Homo sapiens: one gene and its partner. The protein of the gene in region 2 purifies or fractionates together with the protein of the main gene of each other region. This does not show direct contact. Each region holds a gene or a part of one and is shown on either strand. Other genes may lie near its edges.

Evidence for each region.
Region 1: the proteins of OR1E1 (region 2) and CCNYL1 purify together in Homo sapiens (affinity purification with mass spectrometry; one large-scale study listed by BioGRID and IntAct). This does not show direct contact.

What each region holds. Positions count from the first base shown.
Region 1 is NC_000002.12:207,735,495-207,739,320, forward strand, and holds part of CCNYL1 (cyclin-Y-like protein 1), read left to right. Parts: intron 1-1,916; coding exon 1,917-1,952; intron 1,953-3,826. UniProt on the Homo sapiens protein: Key regulator of Wnt signaling implicated in various biological processes including male fertility, embryonic neurogenesis and cortex development. Activates the cyclin-dependent kinase CDK16, and promotes sperm maturation.
Region 2 is NC_000017.11:3,396,425-3,399,879, forward strand, and holds OR1E1 (olfactory receptor 1E1), read right to left. Parts: upstream 1,987-3,455; coding exon 1,042-1,986; 3' UTR 680-1,041; downstream 1-679. UniProt on the Homo sapiens protein: Odorant receptor.

The DNA of each region.
Region 1 (3,826 bases), on a different chromosome or scaffold from region 2:
ATGATTCTGGTCTTAACCCTAACTCAGTCATTCCCAAAATTTGCAGCACATTGGAATCATCACCAGGGGAACTTTAAAAACAACCCTCAGGCTGGGCGTGGTGACTGACACCTGTAATCCTAGCACTTTGGGAGGCCAAGGCGGGTAGATTGCCTGAGCTCAGGAGTTTGAGACCAGCCTGGGCAACACGGTGAAACCCCATTTCTAGTAAAATACAAAAAAATTAGCCAAGCGTGGTGGCGTGCACCTGTAATCCCAGCTACTTGGGAGGCTGAGACAGAATAGCTTGAATCCGGGAAGCGGAGGTTGCAGTGAGCCGAGATTGTGCCATTTTACTCCAGCCTGGGCGACAGAGCAAGACTCTGTCTCAAAAAAAAAACAAAACAAAACACACAAAAAGACAACAAAAAACACTCCTCATGCCCCAAGTCATACCCGATGCCAATTAAATCAGAATGTCTCAAGTTGGAAGTTAGGCAGTTTTTAAAGCTCCTCAGGTGATTGCAGTGTGCAGAAAGTTTGAGAACCACTGCTTAATTGAATGTAGGAGGATGAACTGCTTCTATTTGGTGGGACCTTGGGCAAGTCAGTTTTAAGCCTTGGTTCCCATATCTGTAAACTGGGTGTTGGATTAAATGTCATGTAAGGTTCCGTGGTCCTTTTCAGCATATAACTTCAAATTCTGTAATGTTAAAATCAATTTGGACATGAAAATGTTTGAAGCACTATAGAAGTATCCATCTTAGATGCTAATGTTACAGACTTTTTAAAAAAGTGCTAACATTGTATGGACTTAAAATTCAGATTTGCCTTCCCTCAATTATTTTGAGCCTCAGTTTAGAGACTGAGGGCAAATGGAAGCATATAACTTACCTAAGACAACTCCTTGTTTCCTGATACACAACATCTGTGGGTAATTTAGGAATACAGTAACATATATCTGAAAAGTCGTGTCTGTTCACTAATATTTTACTTAAACCAATGTGGAAATACTTGCCATTAATATTACACTTTGTAGTTTTATGCTGCATTGTTAGCACTGCTTATTTCAGGATAGCTACACCTATCATTGGTTTTGTGTGCACTTATTTACTAATAAATTTTCTACTAATGATGCAAAATTGATCATAAATGATTTTATTTGGTATAAAACACTTTTATTTACTTTAAGGGGAAATAATGAAAGATGGGTGGGTAGGTGATAGTTAATTAAATCAACTGAAATGCAGAGCCTAACAGCTTAAAAAGCAAAAAATAAAAATAACCAAAAAACCAAATAGTTTAAATTTAAGCATGTATACAAATAGGTAGAACTTGTATAAAATGAAAGGTTCTATGGGCAGAAGAGCAAATGGGGATATATGTAATTATTTATATATTATAATAGTCCACAGAAACATGTATTTTAACAGCATATTACTGGGTTTTTTTTTTTTTTTGAGACGGAGTCTCGCTCTGTCGCCCAGGCTGGAGTGCAGTGGCACGATCTCGGCTCACTGCAAGCTCTGCCTCCCGGGTTCACGCCATTCTCTTGCCTCAGCCTCCTGAGTAGCTGGGAATACAGGCGCCTGCTACCACGCCCGGCTAATTTTTTGTATTTTTAGTAGAGACGGGGTTTCACCGTGTTAGCCAGGATGGTCTCGATCTCCTGACCTCGTGATCCACCTGCCTCGGCCTCCCAAAGTGCTGGGATTACAGGCGTGAGCCACTGCGCCCGGCCTTACTTAGCATTTTGGTTCGTGTATTTTTGCTGAAAGGAACTAAAACAAGGGGAAAGTACCCATATGGTACTGTTCTGAACTAGAGGATTTCAGGGCCGCTAGGAGGGTTCCTCCCTTCCCTCATTTAAAAAATGTCTTCAGGCCTAACAAATGTTTAAATCAGTTGTTAAAAATAATTTTTTTTTCCCTTCACAGTGTGACCTTAGCAATATATTACCACATAAAGAACAGGTGAGCTCCTTTAAAACCTGTCTTGTTATTCCAGCTAATTACTTTGCATGATATCAAGTTCAGTATTAGGTCATAACTATAGACATCATAAGCTATAGATTGCTATTACAGTATTGAACTGAATCATTTGTGGTTTTTCTGGTCCCCAAGATGGTTTCAATTATTAAATTACTGAGGATCCCAAAGAGTATTTGTTTATGTTGGTTATATTGATATTTATTGCATTAGAAATTGAAGTTGAGAATTTAAAAAAAAAAACCCTATATTTAGTTTCAGTTTCTCAACGTTGGCACTGTTGATATTTTGAGCTACATAAGTCTTTGTTGTGGGGACTGTCCTGTGTATTGTAGGATATTTAACAGCTGTCCCAGGTTGTGACAACAAAAATATAACCCCTGACTGAGAATCATATTGTTAACATAAATAATATTTTTTCATGAAAAATAACTCTCTTCTACAACAACGAAGTTGAGTAAAATGTGTCATGTATTTATATATATACAACTCTCTAGTGTCCAGCTTAACAGAAAACAGCTGGATTCTCATCTCTGTCTTTGCAATTAGTTTTTTTTTTTAATTTCAACTTTTATTTTAGATACAGTGAGTACATGTGTAGGTGTATTACGTGGCTAATAGTGCACCCTGGTAGTGAGCTGTAATTTGTTTTGAAGAAGTGATAAGAAGATGACCTAGCCTCACGCAAATATATAGTTGGTAAAAGGTATATTTTTAAAGCTTTCAGATGGTTGTGGGTATTCTTTATTTTTTAGTTTATTTTTATTTGGTTTTTTTTGAGACGGAGTCTTGTCTGTTGCCCAGGCTGGAGTGCAGTGGCACGATCTCGGCTCACTGCAACCTCCACTTCCCAAGTTCAAGCGATTCTCCTGCCTCGGGCTCCCGAGTAGGTGGGGTTACAGGCGCATGCCACCACGCCTGGCTAATTTTTGTATTTTTAGTAGAGATGGAGTTTTGCCATGTTGACCAGGCTGGTCTTGAACTCCCGACCTCAGGTGATCCACCCGCCTCAGCCTCCCAAAGTGCTGGGATTACAGGCATGAGCCACCATACCCGGCCAGTATTCTTTAATACTACCCAACACTCCACAAGTGCTAGTTTCTTAAAATGGTTACAGTGGAATTTTGTGTTATCAATGAATTTTTTATTAGTACTCACCCATCTGTCTTGTACAATATATGTATCATTTCCCCTTACTTGGTTTTCTAATATTATGCATTGGTTATATGGAAAATATTGGTTCACATCTCTTCTTTCTTTTTTTTTTCTTTTTTTTGAGACAGAGTCTCATTCCATCACCCAGGCTGGAGTGCAGTGGTGCAGTCTCAGCTCACTGCAACCTCCGCCTCCCGGGTTCAAGCGATTCTCCTGTCTCAACCTCCCAAGTAGCTGAGATTACAAATACATACCACCATACCAGCTAATTTTTTGTATTTTTAGTAGAGACAGTGTTTCACCATGTTGCCCAGGCTGGTCTTGAATTCCTGAGCTCAAGCAATCCGCACACCTCAGCCTCCCAAAGTGCTAGGATTACAGGCGTGAGCCACCATACCCAGCCTGGTTCACATTTCTTGACAGTGGCAAAGCTCACTTTTGTTAGTATCACCACCAATTGTATTAAAAAATCTTTAAGTATTGAGAAGCTGTTAAACTCACATAATAAGGTACAAGTTTCTCCAAATCCTGATTTTTAGTTTGAAAGCTTGAATTTTATCATTGCAACAAATAGTGTTATTTTCTTGAAGTGACAGGCTTCATTTTTTTAAAACTTTTTATTTATTTATCTTTTGAGACTGAGTCTCACTCTGTTGCCCAGGCTGGAGGGCACTGGTGCCATCTTCGCTCACTGTAACCTCTGC
Region 2 (3,455 bases):
GGCGGCTGGGAGGTTAAGCTGTTTAGATCTTATTTAGCACTAACCTAAGATTATAGAGCACTATTTAGAAATGATTCTATCCATGCACTTTGGAAGGCCTAGGTGAGCGGATCACAAGGTCAGGAGTTCAAGACCTGCCTGGCCAACATGGTGAAACCCCATCTCTAAAAATATAAAAATTAGCCCGACGTGGTGGCATTTGCCTGTAATCCCAGCTACTCGGGAGGCTGAGGCAGGAGAATTGCTTGAACCCAGGAGGCGGGGGTTGCAGTGAGCCAAGATCATGCCATTGCACTCCAGCCTGGGTGACAGAGCAAGACTCAGTCTCATAAATAAATAAATAAATAAATAAAAATAAAATGATTCCACAAGCCAGGCATGGTGCCTCACACCTGTAATCCCAGCACTTTGAAAGTCCAAGGTGGGAGGATCACTTGAGGCCAGGAATTCAAGACCAGCCTGAGAAACTTAGGGAGACCTCATCTCTACAAAAAAATCTTAAAATTAGCTGGGCGTAGTGGTGCATGCCTGTAGTCCTAGCTACTTGGGAGGCTGAGGCAGGAGAATCCCTTGAGTCCAGAAGGTTGAGGTTACAGTGAGCCACGATTGTGCCACTGCACTCCAGCCTGGGCAACAGAGTGAGACCCTGTGCGAAATAGAAAATAAAAATAAACAAAAAATTTAAAAATTTTTTTAATTAAACAAAAATGATTCTACAATCAAAGCAAAATTCTGAGTAACATAACAAAATCCTGTGATAATTTAAGAATGTGGGGCATGAAGACCATTTAAAACAGTTGTTCTTAAACTACATTTTTCCAAGATCACCTTGGGAAGACAAACAGGAAGTCTTAGCCAGGTCACCAAGACCCTCTTCCCTAGTTCAACTACTCAGCTATGCTTCATCTCCACTACATATTGAAAAATTATGTACGATGCCATTTCAACAAAAGGATGGTGAGGAAATAATTTAGAATAATATTCCAATATTAATATCAATATTTTACTGGATAAACTATGTAATAGCTCCAAGTGTTATCATCAGAGAGAGAAGAAAGTTTTCTTCTGATGAATGACTCTGCTCAGGGCTCCCTTCATGTCTCTGTTCCTCAGGCTGTAGATGAAGGGGTTCAGCATGGGGGTCACCACAGTGTACATCATAGCCATGACAGTGTCCTTTAGAGTAGAACTATTAGCTGATGAGCATAAGTAGAGACCAATAACGGTTCCATAGAACAGTGACACCACAGACAGGTGGGAGCCACAAGTAGAGAAGGCCTTGCAGATACCCTTAGAAGAAGGGACCTTGAGGATGGAGGAGACAATTCTTGCATAGGACCCAAGGATGAGTAGGAATGGGATGACAAGAATGAGCCCTCCCATGATAAATATCACCCATTCATTAACTCGAGTGTCAGAGAAGGCCAGCTTCAGCAGAGCAGACATATCACAGAAAAAGTGGGGGATCACATTGTCTGCACAAAAACACAACCTGGCCATGAGTAAAGTGTGTAACATGGCATGGAAGGTGGTCAGCACCCAGGACAGCGCCACCAGGGCGAGACAGAGCATGGGGCTCATGATGGCGGTGTAGTGCAGGGGGAAGCAGATGGCCACATAGCGGTCATAGGCCATGGCCACAAGGAGGAAGCTCTCCAGGTCTCCAAATAACAGGAAGAAGTACATTTGGGTCAGGCAGTCCGCATAGGGGATGGATGGGTCCTGGTTCTGCATGTTCTGTAACAACTTGGGAATGGTCACGGAAGAGAAGCAGAGGTCAGAGAAGGACAAGTTGCTGAGAAACAAATACATAGGCGTGTGGAGATGGGAGTCCAGTCGAATGAGGACAATGATGAGGAGGTTCCCCAGGAGGGTGGTAAGATACATGGCCAAGAACAGGGCATAGCACAGGTTTTGCTGCTCTGGTTGGATGGGCAGGCCCAGGAGCAGGAAGTCTGAGATGCTGGTTTGATTTTGTCCCATCATGCTCTGTCTCCAGTATCTTTAATGGAAAAACAACAGTATCCTTTAAAATCTGAATTTTAAAATGGAGATATTTCTGTGACACTTGGTCTGCTGAGTGTTCTGCGAAAATTATTTAACTGACATTATAATAATCATCTCTATACCACAAATATCTATAATTAGAATCTCTATAATCAGAAATGACTTAACTTTATCTTTTTTCTCTTCATTTATCTTTAACATGTAACAATATTCCATCCTTTCTAAAATACTCATCTATTTACTTCTGAAACATAAAGTGTGTTGGTTTCTCTCTTACCTGCCTCACCAGTAACTGCAGTTGGCTCCTCCTCTGTCAGTATCTTACATGTTGATATTCCTCAGGGATTTTTCTAAACTTCATTTTTTTTTTATAATTCTGCATAATGGCCAATAAAAACACATCTACTCCAATGGCTTTAATTGCCATTTAAAACTCAGGTGTAGGCTGGGCGCAGTAGCTCACACCTGTAATTCCAACATTTTGGGAGGCTGAGGTGGGTGGATCACCTGAGGCTAGGAGTTTGAGACCGGCCTGGCCAACATGGTGAAACCTTGTCTCTACTAAAAATACAAAAATTAGCCTGGTGTGGTGGCGGGTGCCTGTAATTCAGCTACTCAGGAGGCTGAGGCAGGAGAATTGCTTGAACCTGGGAGGCAGAGGCTGCAGTGAGCCAAGTTTGTGCCATTGTACTCCAACCTGGGTGACAGAGTAAGACTCTGTCAAAGAAAGAAAAGAAAGAAAGAAAGAAAGAAAGAAAGAAAGAAAGAAAGAAAGAAAGAAGGAAGGAAGGAAGGAAGGAAGGAAGGAAGGAAGGAAGGAAGGAAGGAAGGAAAGGAAAGGAAGAAAGAAAGAAAGAAAGAGAAAGAAAGAAAGAAAGAAAGAAAGAAAGAAAGAAAGAAAGAAAGAGAAAGAAAGAAAGAAACAAACAAACAACTCAGGTGTTCAGGTGTAGCGTTCTCTAGTATACAGAACTTAGTATCCTGAGTCTCAATGATTAACATCTCTTGGATGGATCACAGGCATCTTTGGCTTGACAGATCCTAAATGACATTCTGATCTCACCCTGCTCCTCTTCTAACTCCATCCTCCTCCACTCTCTCATGTTTGGTGAATGGAATCCAGGCTCAAGTCAGAAACCTAAGGTTTGATTTCATTAATTCATTTCTCTCACAGTCAATATCCAATCTAGCAAGTCCTACAGATTCTGCACTTCATTCTCTTTCTAATTCATCCACTCCTTATCCCAACTACCACAACCCTAAACCAGGTGGAAATCTTGTATTACCTGGACTATTGAAACTGCTTCTCAATTCATCTTCCTGCCCCTGTGTTTCAACAACCTTCTCTTCCAACAATCTTCATTTACACTGTGGCATTCTGAGATGAAAATCTGATCATCCCTCTCTTGTGATTAAATATTTCGTGGATTATCATTGTTCTTAAGATA